4 linked regions of the Homo sapiens genome follow. The protein of the gene in region 1 interacts with the protein of each later gene in a pairwise test. Each region holds a gene or a part of one and is shown on either strand. Other genes may lie near its edges.

The links.
Region 2: the proteins of UBE2K (region 1) and SYNCRIP interact in binary tests that used the Homo sapiens proteins (3 or more experiments, as listed by UniProt).
Region 3: the proteins of UBE2K (region 1) and TRIM39 interact in binary tests that used the Homo sapiens proteins (3 or more experiments, as listed by UniProt).
Region 4: the proteins of UBE2K (region 1) and CAMK2A interact in binary tests that used the Homo sapiens proteins (3 or more experiments, as listed by UniProt).

The regions. Positions count from the first base shown.
Region 1 is NC_000004.12:39,704,636-39,709,534, reverse strand, and holds part of UBE2K (ubiquitin-conjugating enzyme E2 K), read right to left. Parts: intron 1-4,899. UniProt on the Homo sapiens protein: Accepts ubiquitin from the E1 complex and catalyzes its covalent attachment to other proteins. In vitro, in the presence or in the absence of BRCA1-BARD1 E3 ubiquitin-protein ligase complex, catalyzes the synthesis of 'Lys-48'-linked polyubiquitin chains.
Region 2 is NC_000006.12:85,615,454-85,619,806, reverse strand, and holds part of SYNCRIP (heterogeneous nuclear ribonucleoprotein Q), read left to right. Parts: intron 1-389; coding exon 390-539; intron 540-867; coding exon 868-989; intron 990-4,353. UniProt on the Homo sapiens protein: Heterogenous nuclear ribonucleoprotein (hnRNP) implicated in mRNA processing mechanisms. Component of the CRD-mediated complex that promotes MYC mRNA stability.
Region 3 is NC_000006.12:30,336,007-30,341,154, reverse strand, and holds part of TRIM39 (E3 ubiquitin-protein ligase TRIM39), read right to left. Parts: intron 1,248-5,148; coding exon 1,225-1,247; intron 884-1,224; coding exon of another isoform or gene 794-883; intron 651-793; coding exon 535-650; intron 1-534. Other genes in the region: TRIM39-RPP21 protein, read right to left, coding at 535-650, 1,225-1,247.
Region 4 is NC_000005.10:150,251,046-150,256,193, forward strand, and holds part of CAMK2A (calcium/calmodulin-dependent protein kinase type II subunit alpha), read right to left. Parts: intron 2,502-5,148; coding exon 2,399-2,501; intron 1,021-2,398; coding exon 937-1,020; intron 800-936; coding exon 705-799; intron 1-704. UniProt on the Homo sapiens protein: Calcium/calmodulin-dependent protein kinase that functions autonomously after Ca(2+)/calmodulin-binding and autophosphorylation, and is involved in various processes, such as synaptic plasticity, neurotransmitter release and long-term potentiation.

The DNA of each region.
Region 1 (4,899 bases):
AATATATTGTAATGAAAGTTACGTGAATGTGCTCTCTCAAAATACCTTATTGTACTATACTCACTTATTTTTGGACGATGGTTGACAATGGGTAACTGAAACTGCAGAAAATCAAACTGCAGATAAGGGTGGACTACTTGGCCACTAGCCCCATGGATTATTGGCACACAGGTGACAAAGAAACACTATTAGAAGTACCTTAACCCTCATCTTGAGCTTTTCTTGAGGCATATTTACATCCAATAATCACTAAACCATTGAACAATACCTTTATAATCCAAGAATAATAAGCACGACAGAATATGAAAACATAGCTAATTCTGACATCTAACAGCTATCCGTTTACTGAATGTTTAATTATGTCCCAAGGTTGTTCTAAGCACCGCAAGGACTCTCCTAATCTTCCCACATTTTTACAGATTAAAAAAATCGAGATACAGAGCCAGTACTTCAGGTTTTAAGAAGAAAAGCCAGGACTCAAAGCAAATCTAATTCTAAAGCCCACGCCCTTAATTACTAAGCTAACTTAACTAAATTATGCTTCAGGAGTTAAAAAATCTCTACCTCCTTGGCAAGTTCAAGTTCTCATACTAAGAGGAAAAAAAAAAAAAAAGACACAAATAATACTGCATTGTTATCCCCTTCTGTAAAGTTGTATTAGCAGTCAGCTTTTATACTATCATTTATGAAAAGGATATTCCCAAAAACCAACTACTTATTATGACTAAACTGGTATGCAAAAAGCCTGGGTTCACCATTAACCAGCTCTGTTTCTCTGAGAAACAATCAACCTCCTTGGGCCTCAATTTCCTGATTTTATAGATGAGAAGTTTGGCCTAGATCTGTTTCAGCTCTGAAATTCAATACATTTTGGCACATTTTCTAAGACACTATATTTTTCTTAAGAAAGATTTTGAAAAGCATCTTTTGAAAACTTTCAAACTTAAAATACATAATATATACTCACATCTATTCTTTTACTCAAACATACTCAAAACTAATCGGTTATTAGAAGTCAGGAAAGTAACTAGAAAGGCAGGCAGATTCCCATGGTACTGGGAAGGGTCTGTTTCTTGATTTGGATGCCAGTCACACTTTATTACGTACACATTTTACTTTAATATGAAAAAGGGTGGTTTTCCTCCCCAAAAGGTAACCATGAAGAAAGTTAAGATCATGATCTAACTCTAAAACTATGTTTGAGTATGTAAGAGCTGTGCAACCTTTCTGTTCTAAATATGCAAATGTGCTTCTTGAATAATTGTATCAATAATCTCTTTGTTCCATAGTTCCAATTCATGTGCCTAAAGAAAAGTTCATTTACTTAAGAATCTCGGCCAGGCGCGGTGGCTCACGCCTGCAATCCCAGCACTTCGGGAGGCCAAGGCTGGCAGATCACCTGAGTCCCGGAGTTCGAGACCAGCCTGACTGACCACCATGGAGAAACCCGGTCTCTACTAAAAATACAAAATTAGCTGAGCGTGGTGGTGCATGCCTGTAATCCCAGCTTCTCGGGAGACTGAGGCAGGAGAATCGCTTGAACCCGGGAGGCAGAGGTTGCAATGAGCTGAGATTGTGCCACTGCACTCCAGCCTGGGCAACAAGAGCAAAACTGTCTCAGAAAAAAAAAATTGCAATATTACCAGAATTCCTTTGGGACTGTCTCCTGAAATTTGAGGTCAGTCTTAACTTTCCTCTAGAACTCAGCTCAAGAAGGCTGGGTGAGGTGGCTCATGCCTATAATCCCAGCACTTTGGGAGGCTGAGGCAGGAGGACTGCTTGAAGCCAGGAGTTCAAGACCAACCTGGGCAACACAATGAGACCCCATCTCTACAAAAAATAAAAATTAGCCAGGTGTGGTGGCACACACCTGTAGTCCCAGCTACTCGGGAGGCTGAGGTGGAAGGCCTGCTAGAACCCAGGAGGTCAAGGCTGCAATGAGCTATGATTGTGCCCCTGGGCGACAGAGTGAGACCCCATCTCAAAAAAAAAAAAAAGGCACCTAGCTCAAGAACCTCCCTCATACAGTCATACAGGCCAGGCACGACGGCTCATGCCTGTAATCCCAGCACTTTGAGAAGCCAAGGCAGGCGGATCACCTGAGGTCTGAAGTTCGAGACCAGCCTGGCTAGAAACCCCATCTCTACTAAAAATAGGAAAATTAGCTGGGTATGGTGGCATGCGCCTGTAATCCCAGCTACTGGGTCAAGCAGGAGAACTGCCTGACCTGGGAAGCAGAAGCTGCAGTGAGCCAAGATCATGTCACCGCACTCCAGCCTGGGTGAGAGAGTGAGATTCCATCTCAAACAAAACAAAACAAAAAAACTCCAGGTGGGGTGGCTCACACATGTAAGCCCAGCACTTTGGGAGGCCAAGACAGCCAGATCACCTGAGGTCAGGAGTGTGAGACCAGCCTGGTCAACATGGTGAAATCCAGTCTCTACTAAAAATACAAAAAAAATTAGCCGGGTGTGGTGGCGCATGCCTGTAATTCCAGCCATTCTGGAGGCTGAGGCCTGAGAATCACTTGAAGCCAGGAGGCGGAGGCTGCAGTGAGCCGAGATAAAGCCACTGCACTCCAGGCTGGGTGACAGAGACTCTGACTCAAAACAAAACAAAAACAAAAAAGAACCTCCCTCATTCAAATACCCTCAGAATCCCATAGCATTTACACTTTGCCCCTCCCATTTTTATCTATCCTTTGTCCTGTATCTCCAACCAATTAAGCCTTTTGGGGCTGTGGTCAACATGTTCGGTAACTGTTAATAATGTATTCACTGGGAAATAAGAGTATATAGTCTTGGCTGGGCATTGTGGCTCACACTTGTAATCTTATCACTTTGGGAGACCAGCCTGGCCAACATCATAAAACCCTGTCTCTACTAACAATATAAAAAATTGGCTGGGCGGTGGGGCGCGCCTGTAATCCCAGCTACTTGGTAGGCTGAGGCAGGAGAACCGCTTGACCTGGGAGGTGGTGGCTGCAGTGAGCTTGGATCATGCTACTGGACTCCAGCCAGGGTGACACAGTGAGATTCCATCTGGGAAAAAAAAAAAAAAAAAGTCCAGGCATGCCAGGCATGGTGGCTCACCATTTAAGCCAAGCACTTTGGGAGGCCCAGGCAGGCAGATCATCTGAGGCCGCGAGTTTAAGACCAGCCTGGCCAATACAATGAAACCCTGTCTCTACTAAAACTACAAAAATTAGCTGGGTATTGTGGCCGGACAGGGTGGTTCACACCTGTAATCCCAGCACTTTGGGAGGCCAAGGCAGGCAGATCACGAGGTCAGGAGATCGAGACCATCCTGACTAACACGGTGAAACCCCGTCTCTACTAAAAAAAAAATACAAAAAATTAGCTGGGAGTGGTCGTGGACGCCTGTAGTCCCAGCTACTCAGGAGGCTGAGGCAGGAGAATGGCATGAACCTGAGAGGCGGAGCTTGCAGTGAGCTGAGATAGCGCCACTGCACTCCAGCCTAGGTGACAGAGCGAGACTCCGTCTCAAAAAAGAAAATTAGCTGGGCATGGTGGCGCATGCCTGTAATCCCGGGATCCCAGCCATTCCAGAGGCTGAGGTATTGGTTGAACCTGGGAGGCGGAGGTTGCAGTGAGCTGAGATCGCGCCACTGCACTCCAGCCTGGGTGACAAAGCGAGACTCCGTCTCAAAAAAAAAAATTAGCTGGGCGTGGTGGCGCATGCCTGTAATCCCGGGATCCCAGCCATTCCAGAGGCTGAGGTATTGGTTGAACCTGGGAGGCGGAGGTTGCAGTGAGCTGAGATGGAGCCACTGCACTCCAGGCTGGGTGATAGAGCCGAGACTCTGTCACAAAAACAAAACAAAACAACAACAAAAAGGAATCTCTCTCATGCAGATACCCTTTAGAATCCCATAGCATTTACTCTTTGCCCCCACCATTTTTATCTATCCTTTGTCTGCCCTGTATCTCTAACCAGTTAAGCCTTTTGGGGCTATAGTCAATATTTTCAATAACTGTCAATAATGTATTCACGGGAAATAAGAGTATATAGTCTTGGCTGGGCACGGTGGCTCACGCCTGTAATCCCAGCACTTTGGGAGGCCAAGGCAGTTGGATCACTTGAGGTCAGGGGTTCGAGACCAGCCTGGCCAACATGGTAAAACCCTGTCTCTACTAACAATACAAAATATTAGCTGGGCGTGGTGGGGTGCGCCTGTAATACCAGCTACTCAGGAGGCTGAGGCACGAGAGTCGCTTGAACCCGGGAGGCAGAGGCTGTGGTGAGTTGAGATCGTGCCACCATACTCCAGCCTGGACAACAGAGCAAGACTCTGTCTCCCAAAAAAAAAAAAAAAAAAACCCAGGTGCAGTGGCTCATGCCTGCAATCCCAGCACTTTGGGAGGCCGAGGCGGCAGATCACAAGGTCAGGAGCTCGAGACCAGCCTGGCCAATACGGTAAAAACCCGTCTCTACTAAAAATACAAAAACAAAAACAAAAAAAAACAAAAAAAAACATTAGCCATGCATGCTGGCACATGCCTGTAATCCCAGCTACTCAGGAGGCTGAGACAGGAGAATTGCTTGAACCCGGGAGGCGGAGGTTGCGGTGAGCCGAGATGGCGCATTGCACTCCAGCCTGGGCGACAGAGGGAGACTCCGTCTAAAAAAAAAAAAAAAAAAAAAGGTGTATAGTCTTTAAGAAGGGGTGACAGGCCAAGCATGGTGGCTCACGTCTGTAATCCCAGCACTTCAGGTGGCCAAGGCCGGAGGATCACTTCAGTCCAGGAGTTCGAGACCAGCCTGGGCAACATGGTGAAACCCCGTCTCTACAAAAAATTACATAAATTAGCTGGGCATGGTGGCAGACGCCTTTAGTCCCTGCTACTTGGAAGGCTGAGGTAGGAGGATCATCTAAGC
Region 2 (4,353 bases), on another chromosome or scaffold:
GGGGCTATACCCTTTTGCATTCCCACCAGCAATGAATGAGAGTTTCTATTGCTCTGCATTCTTACCTGCATTTATAGTGTGTTGGATTTTGGCCATTCTAATAGTTTTGACTTGCGGTTTCCGAATGACAGATTATATTGAGCATCTTCATGAGATTCTTTGCCATCTGTATATCTTTTTTGGCAAAGCATCTATTTCAGGTCTTTCAACATGATCCAGCAGTTCTGCTGCTTGATATTTACCCAAGGAGTTGAAAACTTTTTTTTTTTTTATATTCTGACATTCTTCTAATGGATTGTGATTTGAGTTAACTTTGTAGGGTGGGGTGGTGGTATCTTAGAAATGGAACTCTTTGGAAATAATACAGGGGGGTATTTTCTTCCCCCTAGGTAAAAGTGCTGTTTGTACGCAACCTTGCCAATACTGTAACAGAAGAGATTTTAGAAAAGGCATTTAGTCAGTTTGGGAAACTGGAACGAGTGAAGAAGTTAAAAGATTATGCGTTCATTCATTTTGATGAGCGAGATGGTGCTGTCAAGGTAAATATGGTGGAATTACAGGCATCTAAATCAGACTAACAAATTTAGTCATTTTAGAATCTCAAAATAGTTTTACAAATTGGAGGAGACTTTGGAAGTCCATGGAATCCATTCAAACTAAAACCTTTTGGTTTTAGTGATGTTGGCAGTTTTCTAAGTAAAAATGAAAAATAATTGAATATCTGCATCTTTAAATAAAATTATTTGACTGCCTGCATGGGGCTTTCTCTTGTCCTTCCCACATTAATGATAAATGATATTCCAACTTTAAATGAATCATAATTGTATGAAAGTCCTATTTTTATATTGACTTATCTAATTTTTTAAGGCTATGGAAGAAATGAATGGCAAAGACTTGGAGGGAGAAAATATTGAAATTGTTTTTGCCAAGCCACCAGATCAGAAAAGGAAAGAAAGAAAAGCTCAGAGGCAAGCAGCAAAAAATCAAATGTGAGTGAAATTTGTATACTTAAAAATTGTATAAATTTTAATATTTATACACTAATTGGAAAATAACAGGTGTTGATCAGACTTGTTAAATGCATAACATCTCTTTAAAGAAGACTTGAACGTTTGAGAGTCATAGGGAAACACCAGTGATCTAAGTGTTTATTGAACTCTTACTATGAACCATATTTGTGAAAATAATCAGAATTGTAAATAACTGGAATTTTGGTAAATTGGCAAGATGAAAAATCTGTCTAGCTTTTTTTTTGTTTTGTATTGGGTGACAGAGTCTCACTTTGTCACTCAGGCTGGAGTGCAGTGGCACTCTTTCGGCTCACTGGAACCTCCACCTCCCGGGTTCAAGAGATTCTCCTGCCTCAGTCTTCTGAGTAGCTGGGTTACAGGCGCCACCATGCCTGGTAATTTTTGTGTTTTTTTTTTTAGTAGGGGTGGGGTTTCGTCATGTTGGCCAGGTTGGTCTCAAACTCCTGACCTCAGGTGATCCGCCCACCTCTGCCTCCCAAAGTGCTGGGATTACAGCTGTGAGCCACCATGCCTGGCCTATCTCACATATTTTCTTTGTATTTTACAGAATGTTCTTCTGAAAATGTCTTAAATATTAGCTGTCCAAATATCTTAATACATTTTGTTAAAGGGTGGAGAGTTTTTTCTCTGAGAGATAGGAAATACTAAATCTCTATTCATGATAGACTGTTTCTTCACCAGTAGTGCTCATTGCCACCCCAAAAATTTCATGTTCGATGGATGGATTTTGAAAATGAAATGAGTATTAAAATTATAACACAGTAGTGCAATAAGAAAACAAGTAGGTGTGTAATGAGTTATACTAATTAGGGAGACCTTTTTAGAGAATCTGTAAATAGGTATCTGCTTAAGACTGAAGGAAACTTAGTTGGGTAAGAATTGAAGTTAGCTCCTAAAAAGTTAGTTACTGATTTCCTAGAAGAGGGGTAATTGTTCTTGAATGTGAGAGCAATAATCACTGTCAATACTATTCAAGGTTAATTTTCTGTTGATTGCCCTGTTTGGAATTTAAAGGAAGAGGATGCTTCTACATATTTCTGTTACTTCATAATCAGGGAATTGATCAAGTTCTAGTTTCTGCAGTTAATTGTCCAGTTGGACAAGTTGGCAAGCTCTGAACCTCAATTTCTTCAGTTCTAAAATGGGATCAGACAAAATTATGTAATAGCTCTGGATTATGTGATTATCCAAGTGACCCATGCTTGTTCTGGGACCAAAGAAAATATACTTTGTAGGTTTGATGATAGTGTAAATGAAGGAAGACTACAAAAAGAGTTAGTTTTAATGCTCTATATTTCAAACACCTGGATATACTAAACAGTGTAAAATAACTTCTTTTTATTTCTTTCAGAAGACGATATATGGTTAATTTATTAAAGTAGAATGTAAGTATAGGAGATTATATTAGATAATGTGATTAGAGCAGTTACATTTGGTACTTGATAGAGGGAGATACTAAATAGAAGGTGGAGGATGTCAGTATATCTGTTAATATTTGAAAAGGAGTACAAACTAAAAGGGATGATTGCATGTTACTTTCGTACTTTAACTTGCTACAGTCTTTTTTTTTTTTTTTTTAAGTTTTAACTAAGCACGTATTCCTACATAATTCTCACTGTATTCCTGTGAGTTAGGTACTCTATCCCTTAGTTTGAAATGAGGAAACTGAGGCTCAGAAGTCAACTTCCTTGGGGTCATTCACATAGTAAGTAGTGGAGTTGGATTTGAACTAAGGTAGTCTAGTCTCCCATAATTTTCCCTCTTAACCACTATACCAGGATTTCTCATCTCTGTCCTCCTGACATTTTGGGCTGGATAATTCTTGGTCTTGGGGGCTGCCCTGTGCGTTGTAGGACTTTTAGCAGCATCCTTGGCCTCTTCCTGCTAGATGCCAGTAGCACCCCCTTTCTCAGTTATGACCGTCTAAAATGTCCCCCTGGAAAGAGGTGGTGGCAAAATTATCCCTGGTGAGAACTATTTAGAAATAGAAAAGGATGATCTTTCCATCATTTCCTCAAAACAATAAACCAGCAGAGCACATAAAAGGTCTAAGGACCTAGTGAACCGGAATAACATTTTTACGTTAGTCAGTTGGAACAGGGGCCTTTAATAATTCAGGATAAAATAAGGCCGGGCGTGGTGGCTCATGCCTGTAATCCCACCACTTTGGGAGGCTGAGGTGGGCAGATCACTCTAGGCCGAGGTGGGTGGATCATTCGAGGTTAGGAGTTCGAGACCAGCCTGGCCAACATGGTGAAACCCCATCTCTACTAAAAATAAAAATTGGCTAGGTATGGTGGCACATGCCTATAGTCCCAGCTACTCGAGAGGCTGTGGCAGGAGAATCACTTGAACCCAGGAGGTGGAGGTTGCAGTGAGGTGAGATTGCGCCACTGCATTGCAGCCTGGGTGACAGAGCAAGACTGTGTCTCAAATAAATAAATAAATAAAATAACATAACAGGTACGGAATAAAAAACACGAGTAAATTATTCCTTCAAGAGGGATTAATTTCCATATTTCATGGGATTATTGGGCTCAAAATAATCACTAAGTTTTAAGGAATTGTATAAAATTGTACTGTAGGGAACATGAGTTGGAATATTGTAACTTCGTTTAGTCCTTTTACATAGTATGTAAGCATATGCTGATTTGTGTGGTTGCTTTCTAATCACTTTGACAACTAAAGTTATACCTGTTTAGTGGTTAAAGTTCAGCACTATAGTTACGGTGTAGTTTATTTTTGGGAAAGTAGCAGATCTTTTAAATTTTACTTGGATAGCATTATTGTAGAAACAGGAAAACTTTAAGGTCTTTATGCTAATTTACTGTAGTAAACTTTGAACTTCACACATTTTGGTTGTGTGCTTGTCCTACTTGCCATTTTGCTTTTGTAATAAATGTTCTTCAAGTATATTGGAATAGAATCTTAGCAGAAATGCAATTCAAAGTGACAAATTTTTTTTTGAGTCAGAGTCTCGCTCTGTCACCCAGGCTGGAGTGCAGTGATGTGACCTTGGCTTACTGCAGCCTCCGCCACCTGGGTTCAAGCGATTCACCTGCTTCACTCAGCCTCCCGCATAGCTGGGATTACAGGCATGACCGCTCCCAGCCCTAAAGTGGCAAATTTGACAGCTAAATCAATTGTAAAAATTCTGTAACAGGTTTATTGGGAGATTTTGAAGATCATGAAGAAATAAATAAGGTTCATAACTAGAGATTTGTGGTATTTTGGGATGCCTATATTGTCATCCTGATCCTCTGATCATTACTACTACTAAAACTTAATCTAGTACAAATAATTCTGTATTAAAGTTATGTGA
Region 3 (5,148 bases), on another chromosome or scaffold:
CTCACTGCAACCTCCGCTTCCCAGGTTCAAGCAGTTCTCCTGCCTCAGCCTCCAGAGGAGCTGGGATTACAGGCGCCCAACACCACATCTGGCTAATTTTTATATTTTTAGTAGAGATGGGGTTTCACCGTGTTGGCCAGGCTGATGTCGAACTCCTGACCTCAAGTGATCCACCAGCCTTGGCCTCCCAAAGTGCTAGGATTACAGATGTGAGCCACCGCACCCGGCCTTTGAAGGTTATGCAAGTTTACATGGTAAATTATATAACCACTCTACCCGATGACTTTGGCAAATTATTTAACCTTTCTGGGTCTCTATTTAGAAAAGAATGGACCTAAGAGTAGATAACGCTTAAGGCTTCCTCTCACTCCAAGTTCTGTGACTCAGGGTGAGACTAAAAGCCAGATAAAGGGGTAGGTGTGTGTGGGAGTAAGAAAAGTGAGACATAGGATAACTGAAACCCATATAAGGTAGGACCTAAAAACTTTCTTCTCTCTAGTGGTTTCTTCTAGTTTCCTTTTGGGAACAACTCACCAATTAGCTGTTTAAGGATTTTCCTTAGGGCAAAGTACTGTCGGGGAAAATTGCTGAAGTTCTTTTCCAGCTCTATGGATACTGAAGTCACCTCCATGGTCTTCACCTTTTCACATCTAGGAGGGATAGGGAGATAGGGGAAGAAAGGGCAGGGTTAGGGAGAAGCTCCAGCCAAGTGACTATTCAGATGTTAACATTTTTAGGGAGAAATTAAAATTCTCCATCTTCCCACTTTCTTCCTCCTCCCTGAAAAGCTCACCTGTTGATTTCTTTTACTAATCCAAGGAGAGCCTTATGATCCCGTGGACAGATCGTTGAGAGTGAGCCTCCGAACTTTCTAGGAATATTCCTGTATTTCATGCAAATGGATGATTGCCCTCCCTGCTCTCCCAACCCCTTCCTCCTGCCATCTTGTTTGGACACAATTCCACCCACTGGCACAAGTAGAATCTGATTCTACCTTATCATTCTCCTTCTCAAGAAGTCCTGATGTTCAAAGGGGAAAAGGGATTATTATTCCCAATAATTTGTTCTCTAACTGGCTTCATGGGCACAATGAACATTCTCCCATACCCTGCCCAGACACACTACATGACTTTCCCAACCTCACCCCCAACCCAAACTCCTGACTGTACCCCTCCTCTCTAAGCCAAGACCTAACTCACTCAGAGAGATACAACAATCACTTACTTTTCCAGGGTACTTTTGACATCCTAGAAGGAAGGAGAAAAGAAAGCAATATTGGTCCTGGTATTCAGTGGTCCTGAAGGCAAAAGGTTCCCCCTCCTCCCCAAAGTTCCACAGCTATAAAATAGGGATAGGATAAACTGAGGGTCACACAGTGCAAGAAGAGCTCCAGCGGGACCTGAATGCACTTCTCCCAACCTAATCCCTACTTTCAACTTCTGGTCATCATGAAGCTTGGTCATTTATATCACTTCCCAATGATTTCTTTTATGCTTGTCTTTGCTCCTCAAGGATGCTGGGAGCTCCCTATAAGGGACAGGGATTGTATCAATTCTTTACTCTGTCCCCCAAGTACCAACCACATATCTCACTCTCCTTGAGGATAAGTACAGAGAGTTCCAGACTGGTGGCATAGGAACAAATCACACATTCCTGTTACGGTTTGGTATCCCCTGTCTTGCATTAGTTAATAAACATCAATAACTGGCTGGGCACAGTAGCTCACGCCTGTAATCTGAGCGCTTTGGGAGGCCAAGACGGGTGGATCACTTGAGGTCAGGAGTTCAAGACCAGCCTAGCCAACATGGTGAAACCCTGTCTTTACTAAAAATACAAAAATTAGCCAGGTGTGGTGGTGTGCGCCTGTAACCCCAGCTACTCAGGAGGCTGAGGCAGGAGAATCGCTTGAACACAGGAGGCAAAGGTTGCAGTGAGCCGAGATCATGCACTGCACTCCAGCCTGGGCGACAGAGCAAGACTCTCTCAGAAAAAAAAAAAAGGAAGAATAAACACATTAATAACTGTGTGCTAATACTGATTTGTGAATACTTGGGGTCCAGAAGACAAAGAAGACAAATCTCTGTCCCACAAGGATTTCCCAGTTTAATATGGAAGGCAGAACACACATACATGAAAGGCCATAGGAACAAATACCAAGCAATACGTAACATAAAAATAAATGTACAATGAAGCCTCACTGCTTCAAATGCTGGTAATCTAATCTCTAAGATAAAAAATATGTTCCCTAGTTTTGCTAACACCATTCATTTACGTAAGAGAACAAAATATTTCAAACACTTTAGAGGTATTATTAATATATACATATCAAAAGCAATATATTATTTAAACAATTTCAGGCATACCTCATTTTATTGCACCTCGCTTTATTGTGTTTTGTTGACATTGTATGTTTTTCAGATAGATGGTTTGTGGCAACCTGTGTTGAGCAAGTCTACTGGCACCATGTTTTCCAACAGCATGTGTTCACTTCATGTCTCTGTGTCACATTTTGGTAATTCTCACAATATTTCACACTTTTTCATTATTATATCTAGTATGATCTGTGATCAGTGATCTTTGATGTTACTATTGTAATCGTTATGGGGGCACTGTGAACTGCATCCATATAAGACGAACAACTTAATCGATAAATATATTTTATGTGTTCTAACTGATCCACTACCAGCTATTCCCTCATCTTTCTCCATCTCCTCTGGCCTCCCTATTCCGAGACACAACGATATTAAAATTATATCAATTAATAATCCTGCAATGGCCTCTAAGTGTTCATGTGAAAGAAGAATCACATGTCTCTCACTTTAAATCAAAACCTAAAAATGTTTAAGCTTAGTGAGAAAGGCACATTGAAAGCCAAGATGGGCTGAAAGCTAGGCCTCTTGTGCCAAACACCAAGCCAGGCTGTGAATGCTAAGGAAAAGTTATTGAAGAAAATTAAAAGTGCTACTCCAGTGAACACATGAATGATAAGAAAGTGAAACAGCTTTATTGCTGAGATGGAGAAAATTTTAGTGATCTGGATATAAGATCACATGATTCCCTTAAGCCAAAGCCCAATCCAGAGCAAGGCTGTTAACTCCTTCAGTTCTATGAAAGCTGAGAGAGGTAAGGAAGCTGCAGAAGAAAAGTTTAAAGTTAGGTAGGTTGTTTTAAGAAAAGAAGCCATCTCTGTAACAAAAATGTGCAAGGAGAAGCAGCAAGTGCTGATGCAGAAGTTGCAGCAAGTTATCCAGAAGATCTTGCCAAGATTACTGATGAAGGTGGCTACACTAAACAACACATTTTCAATGTCAACAAACAGCCTTCTATTGAAGAAGGTGCTATCCAGGGCTTTCACAGTTCGAGAGAAGTCAATGCCTGGCTTTAAAGCTTCAAAGGACAGGATGACTTTCTTATTAGAAGCAAGGGCAGCTGGTGACTTTAAGTTGAAACCAGTGCTCACTTACCATTTCAAAAATCCTAGGGCTCTTAAGAATTATGCTAAATCTACTTTCCTTGTGCTCTAGAAATGGAATAACAAAGCCTACATGACAGTACACCTGTATACAGCATGGTATACTGAATGTTTTTAATTAAAAAAAATTACCTTTTGTAGAGATGGGGTCCTGCTATATTGCCCAGACTGGTCTTGAATTCCTGGCCTTAAGCAGTCCTCCTGGCTTGATCTCTCAGAGTGCTGGGATTACAGATGTGAGCCAACGTGCCTAGCCTTTACTGAAGTTTTTTTTGGGGGGATGGAGTTTCACTCTTGTCACCCAGGCAGGAGTGCAACTGCATGATCTTGGCTCACTGCAACCTCTGCCTCTCGGGTTCAAGCGATTCTCCTCCCTCAGCCTCCCGAGTAGCTGGGATTACAGGCGCCCACCACCATGCCCAGCTAATTTTTTTGTATTTTTAGTAGAGATTGGGCTTCACCATGTTGGCCAGGCTGGTCTCAAACTCCTGACCTCAGGTGATCCACCTGCCTTGGCCTCCCAAAGTGATAGGATTACAGGTGTAAGCCACCGTGCCCAACCCTTTACTGAAAATTTTAAGTTGAGACCTACTGCTCAGAAAAAAAGATTCCTTTCAAAATATTACTGCTCACTGACAATGCACTTGATCACCCAAAAGTTCTGATAGAGATGTAAAATGAGATTCATGTTGTTTTCACGTCCGCTAACACAACATCCAATCGGCAGCCCATGGATCAAGAAGTAATTTGGACTTTCAAGTCTTAATAAATGTATTTCATAAAGCTGCTATAAATAGTGATTTTTCTGATAGATCTAGGCAAAGTAAATTGAAGGCTTTCTGGTAAGGATTCACCATTCTAGATGCCATTAAGAACATTTGTGATTTGTGAAAGGAAGCCAAAATATCAATATTAACAGGCATTTAGAAGAAGTCTATTCCAACCCTTATGGATGACTTTTAGGGGTTCAAGACTCCCATGTTGTAAGTAACTGCAAATGTGGGTTTTCAAAGATTTTCAAAGAAGTTCTACTGGTGAGTAAAATGCTATTAAACAGCATCACATGCTCAGAGATATCTTTCATAAAAGGAAGAGTTGAAAGTAAACTTCGTCGTTGTCTTATTTTAAGAAATTACCACAGTCACCCCAATCTTCAGCAACCACCACCTCGATCAGTCAATACTAACACAAGACCCTCCACCAGCAAAAATATGATTCCACTAGGAAACCCAACAATTAATGTGACTTGCTTTATCAAGATACTCGCTTTATTGAAGTGGTATGGAACTGAACCCACAATATCTCTGAGGTATGCCTGTATCCTTTAAACTATGTTTCTGTCCTTTTTCAGCAGTACATAAATCAAATTTCAGGACTTAAAAGTAATGGTAACTGCATTTACAAAATTTTTAATGCATAGTTTTTCACTAACTCAGGCTAGACTTCCCTCCTTTCAAAAGAATGAATCTTTTCTTTGGAACAGATTAAGCACATAATTGCTGACCAGAGATAAGAACACAAAAATGGTTAGAAGGGGATGGGAGAAATCACTTTTCCGTAGCAAAGACCCTTTGAGTACACCTGGCAGAAAGAACTGGATTTAGAGAAGGAGAGCAGAAGAATGAGTATCCCAGGCTGACAAATCCCAGGCTACGCAAAGCTACGCTGCACTCAGC
Region 4 (5,148 bases), on another chromosome or scaffold:
ATTTGCAGAGCAGCCGGTCAGTGGCTTTAGCCCAGACTTCAGAATCAAAAGGCCTGGATTCAAGTCCTGGCTCTGCCTCCTGGGCTGTGTAACCTGGGTAAGTCACATGACCTCTTGAGCTATCTCTAGAGATGTTGTGAGAATTAAATACAATATAAAACATACGGCACAGAGCTTAATAGCTATCTGCATAAAAGCAATATAGCTTGGTAGTTAGAAGCATGGATGGTAGAGCCAGACTGCCTGGTTCAAATCCCACCTCTACCATTTCTTAGCTGTGTGATCTAGGCAGTTACTTGACCTCTCTGTATGTCAGCTTCTCTATATGTAAAATGGGAATAATAACAGCACCTATATCATAGATTGGTGTGAGGATTAAATGTAATAATATGTGTAAAACATTCAGAGAGTGCTATAGAATTGTTAGCTATTATTATTTGTATATATGAGAGAGAAACAGAGAAACCCTGGCTTGGGAGGCGCCTCTCCCCTACTCCTCACTCCATTTTGGTGCTGCTTCTTGCCTTCTGGGGCAAGATAAATCTCCAATCATTAGGCACAGCATGGTAACCACCTGGCCCTGGTCAGTCTTCATGCTCCCCTGGGGTTCACCCCTGTGCCAGAACTAGAGAGTGGCTTGGCGCTGGCTTTCACTGGAAGGGCACCAGAGGATGATGGGAGCTGAAGAGAGGAGCGACACTCACATCATAGGCGCCGGCTTTGATCTGCTGGTACAGGCGGTGCTGGTCCTCATCCCAGAACGGGGGGTACCCAACCAGCAGGATGTACAGGATGACCCCTGGAAAGAGGACCAGAGAACCTTCAACCCCCTGTGGGGAGGAGACATGGGGGGAGGGGAGTGATGGGAAAGGAGAGAGGGGGCCCCAGAGGCCGGGGTGCAGCCAGGGGCACAAAAGGGCCTTAGGATGAACTCACCACAAGCCCACAGGTCCACAGGCTTCCCGTACGGGTCCTTCCGCAGCACTTCTGGGGAGAGATATCCAGGAGTCCCTGCAAACCCTGCTCCCAGACACACAGACAGGCAGACACATACACAGAGGTTGTCTCGTAAGTAACCTGGAGCAAGATCCTGCTGGAAGAGGGGATGAGGATTGCTCTGGAGCTGAGGAAAACAGCCCCTGCCCCTCAGGTGCACTTGGGCTTGTATTGTGCAACCCCAGTCGGCCCAAGACATAAGCCTGATGAGCCAGCAAAGCCTCTAGATCAGATCGACAACTACCTAGCACACCTGTCACCACTTCCCACTTCAGAGCCAGTGGTAATCAGCCACAGAACTCCTTCCTACTGGGTCCTGACTCAGGATCATAAGCTTCTCAGCACCACTCTTCCAGGAGCCACTAGTGATCCATTGCTGGTGGCTTCAAGATGAAATGCACCTGCCATGTCAGCCCCAGGCTGAGAGCTAAGCCCACTCTGCACCCCCTTGTTGGAGTTGGTCATGGGATGTCGGGAGGCCTGTCCTAACTGACTTTGCCCCTTGGGTACGTCTCTTTATCTTCTAGTCCTTGTTTCCTCATCTGTCAAATGAAGGATTAGGGATTCCTATCTTAAGTGCCTCCCAGGGTTGTTGAGCCGGTCAGTTCAAATAATGGACACCTGAGGTATTCTAACAAGCACTTTTAAGAACACTTACAAGTTACCGAGTGTGTATGCTAAGCATTGGGCTGAGCACTTCATATGCCTGGTCACATTTAATTCTGACACCACTCCTGAGGGACACACAATTATTATTCCCATTTTACAGATGAGGAACGAAGGCACAGAGAGGTGAAGTGACTTAGCCAAAGTCACATACCTCATAAGTAGCAGAGTCGGGATTTGAACCCAGAACTCTGGTTCTTAACCATGGCTCAATATTGCCCACTAAAAAGTACTCCCAGGTAGCTTAAAGAGACCCAGTTATACCAAAATCACAAAGCAGGCTGGATCATCTGAGTTAAGTCCTGGTCTATCCCTTTTAAACTTTCTTGACCTTCTGCAAGTTTTCTGCCAGTTTTTTCCTCATCTATAAAATCAGGATAATAATCTCAAGCACCTAGACTATTAGGGCAGCTCTGTGGAAACTTCCCTAAGGCCTTCAACCACAGGGAGCCCTTTGGGGAGGAGAGATGGCGGAGGGGAGTGACAGGAAAGGAGAGAGGGGGCCCCAGGGAGCCCTGTGGAAGGCCGTAGGGTCCCATGCCTGAACCCTGGGGACACAGATAGGTGCTGCCCACTGGCTCAGAGGCTGGGTGGGACAGGGCCTCTGCTCTACCAGCCCCGGCTGGCCCAACAGCATCTCCAGCCATACCCACTCAGGCAGGGGGTTCCCAGAGGCTTATGTGTCAACACAAATGGGTGCTGACCCCCAACACTTCTGCCAGCCCACCCCACTTACCAAACCATGCCTGCTGCTCCCCCTCCACCTCTATGGCCAGGCCAAAGTCTGCCAGCTTCACTGCGGCACCCTTGAGCTTGGAGGCCAGCAACAGATTCTCAGGCTTGTCAGGACCAGAGAAGAGGGAGGAAGGGGAGGAAAGCGCCAAGAGACAGTCAGCAGATTCAGAGCCTCACCTCTAGGGGCCTGGGCTCACAGGAAGAACAGCCCGGCCCTCCGGGGCCCCTGCTTTCATCTCCAGCCCCGCCTCAGGCTCCTGAGTCTCAGTCCCCAGAGAGGGGACTATCCTATGGCAAGACCTCCATCCGCTACAACAGAAAGGCCCTTTCTCCATCAGCCACTCCTCCCTCCCCACTTCAAGATCTGGGGCTGGGCTGAGGTGAGAGCGGGGTGGTACATTCACCACCACAATAAAGCAGCAGCAGCAGCAGCAGCATTGATTGTGCCCCTACTATATGTCAGCTGCTGGGTTAAGTGTTCTGCGTGCATCATCTCTTGTATCAACGACCCTTTCGGGTAGGTATTATTACCTACATCTTCCACAGTGGCCTTCCTATGCCCCTTGAAACAGTCCATCTTGTTTCCACCTCAGGGCCTTTGCACTTCCTGTTTTCCTCCTCTAATTTTTTCTCCCCCAAGCTTCAAAGTGGCCCCTTTACTTTGTCCAGCCCTCAGTCTCATGTCACCCCATGGAGGAGGCCATCCAAGTTTACTCTATCTAGAGGGGAAGCCCTCAGGCATCCTGTGTCTTTGCTCCTGTTGTTACCTTCATAGATCTCATCACAATTTGCAGTGTTTTCTCCCATCTGTCTATGTGCTTGTTTATCATCTGTCAGCCCTGGGGAATGTGAGTTCCTTATCTGTCCTGTTCACCACTGTATCACCAGCACCTAGGTTGGGGGGCCACACAGCAGGCACTTAATAAGTATTTGTCACGTATATAAAGATGAGAAAACTGAAGCTCAGAGAGGTTAAGTGACTTGGCCAAGATCACGCAGCTGGTAAGGGATAGAGCCAGAATCGAGGCAAAGTCTGACTCTATCTTAACTGCTCTAGGCTGAAAGATGATGAGGCTTATACATGGGGCCAGCAGCTGACTTGGGAAGGTCCCACACCTGGCCTCTGGGCATCGAGGCTGCTGCTTTGCACTGGCTCAGCCTCCAGAATTCCTCCACTTCCTGCTGGTCCCTTCACCCTGAGACTCAGGATGGAGGGGCGCTAAGACTGTGGGCTCGCTTAGATAGTCCCAGTTTCTGATCCCGATGCTGCCCACCTCTATGCCATGACATATGGGCAAATTATTTCACTTCTCTGAGCTTTAGTTTCCTCTGAGAAAAATGCTTACCTTATGGGGTGGTGCATGGATTAACTGAGATAATCTGTGTAAGCACTTCGCTGTGGCCTACAGTAAGTGCTTGGTAAATGTTAGTACTTCTATTTTTGGCTTGGGGAGGGGCTCAGAGTCTCTGAAGACTGTTGGTTTTGAGTCCTCCTCTGATCCCCTTCCCAGTGGGACTTCTGAAGGGTCCCACCTCTGACCTTTCACTGTCTAAAGCTAGGCTGGACCCAAACAAATATAGCTCCCTCCGCCTGGCTCAAAGGCCTCCTTTGTCCTCTGGGGACAATGTTCCTAACATGTCCTGGGTCTCGGTAACCGTCCTGCCCTGATTTGATGAATGTGTCACTAATTATTATATCCAGAGTGGCCTAAATTTGGGCTGCCTCTCCTCCTTCCTCCTCCAGTGCAGGGGCTGCAGCTATAATGGGAACAGGCCCTCTGGGAGAGGTGCCCTGCAGTCTGGCTGGAGACCCTCTTGGAGTGCACACTCGTCTCATCTAGACTGAGCCACAGGGAGCTTGCCTAGGGCTCAGGAGAGAAGCCGTGTCTGCCCAGGACAGTCAGAGAGGGGCAGGGTCTCTCTTCAGAGCATTGTGCCCCAAAGAGGGACCCAGACCAGTGGAAGCATGCCCAGGGAAGGTGCCCAGGATGAGGCTGGCCTGAAAATCACACTCCGGGAGGACCGTGGCAGGGGTGGGTACACCCTGCAGGGGACTTAGCAGCTACAACAAAGCTGCTGGAGTCCGTCTAGGGCTCTTCCAAGCTGGAGGTTTGGTCTCTGTGTGGTTCCAAATGGCAGAACTGAGGTTCAGGGCAAAGCCCCTCCAGCAGGGAAGAGTGTTCCCCAGTGGTGCAAGGGGCTACCCCATGGGAAGTGAGTTTGCTGTCACTGAAGAACAAAAAGCAGAGGTTTGATGGACATCTGGCAGGGTCACCCTAGAAGGGGCTGCTGAGGAAGCAGGAGCTGGATAGAGTGACCTTTTGGCACCAGACTCCCAAGGTCACAGGATCAGGGGTTAGAAGGCCAGAATTCCCCCGCCCTAGCTAAGGACAATTGAACTGCATGTTCTTGGGCAAATTGCTTGAACTCTTAGGCCTTAGTTTCCTGCTCTGCAAAATGGAGACAATATGAACTACCAGCCACTGATACCATGAGGATCAGCAGCGGAGATCCATGAAGTCCCTGCTGAAGGAGCAAGGCTGTGCAGCTGGTGCCAGTCCTAGACTCTGCAATCTCCTTCAGGTAAAAGAAAGGAGAACTGCACGGGCCTAGAGTCTGGTTTTTCTTCTCCCCTGGCCTGCCAGAGATGCAGGAACAAGACTAAGAATGCATCTGTATACCAGGCCCCGTGCTATCTCATTTCATATCCTCACCAACCCTTTGCAGAGGTTGCTATGGCAACCCCCATTG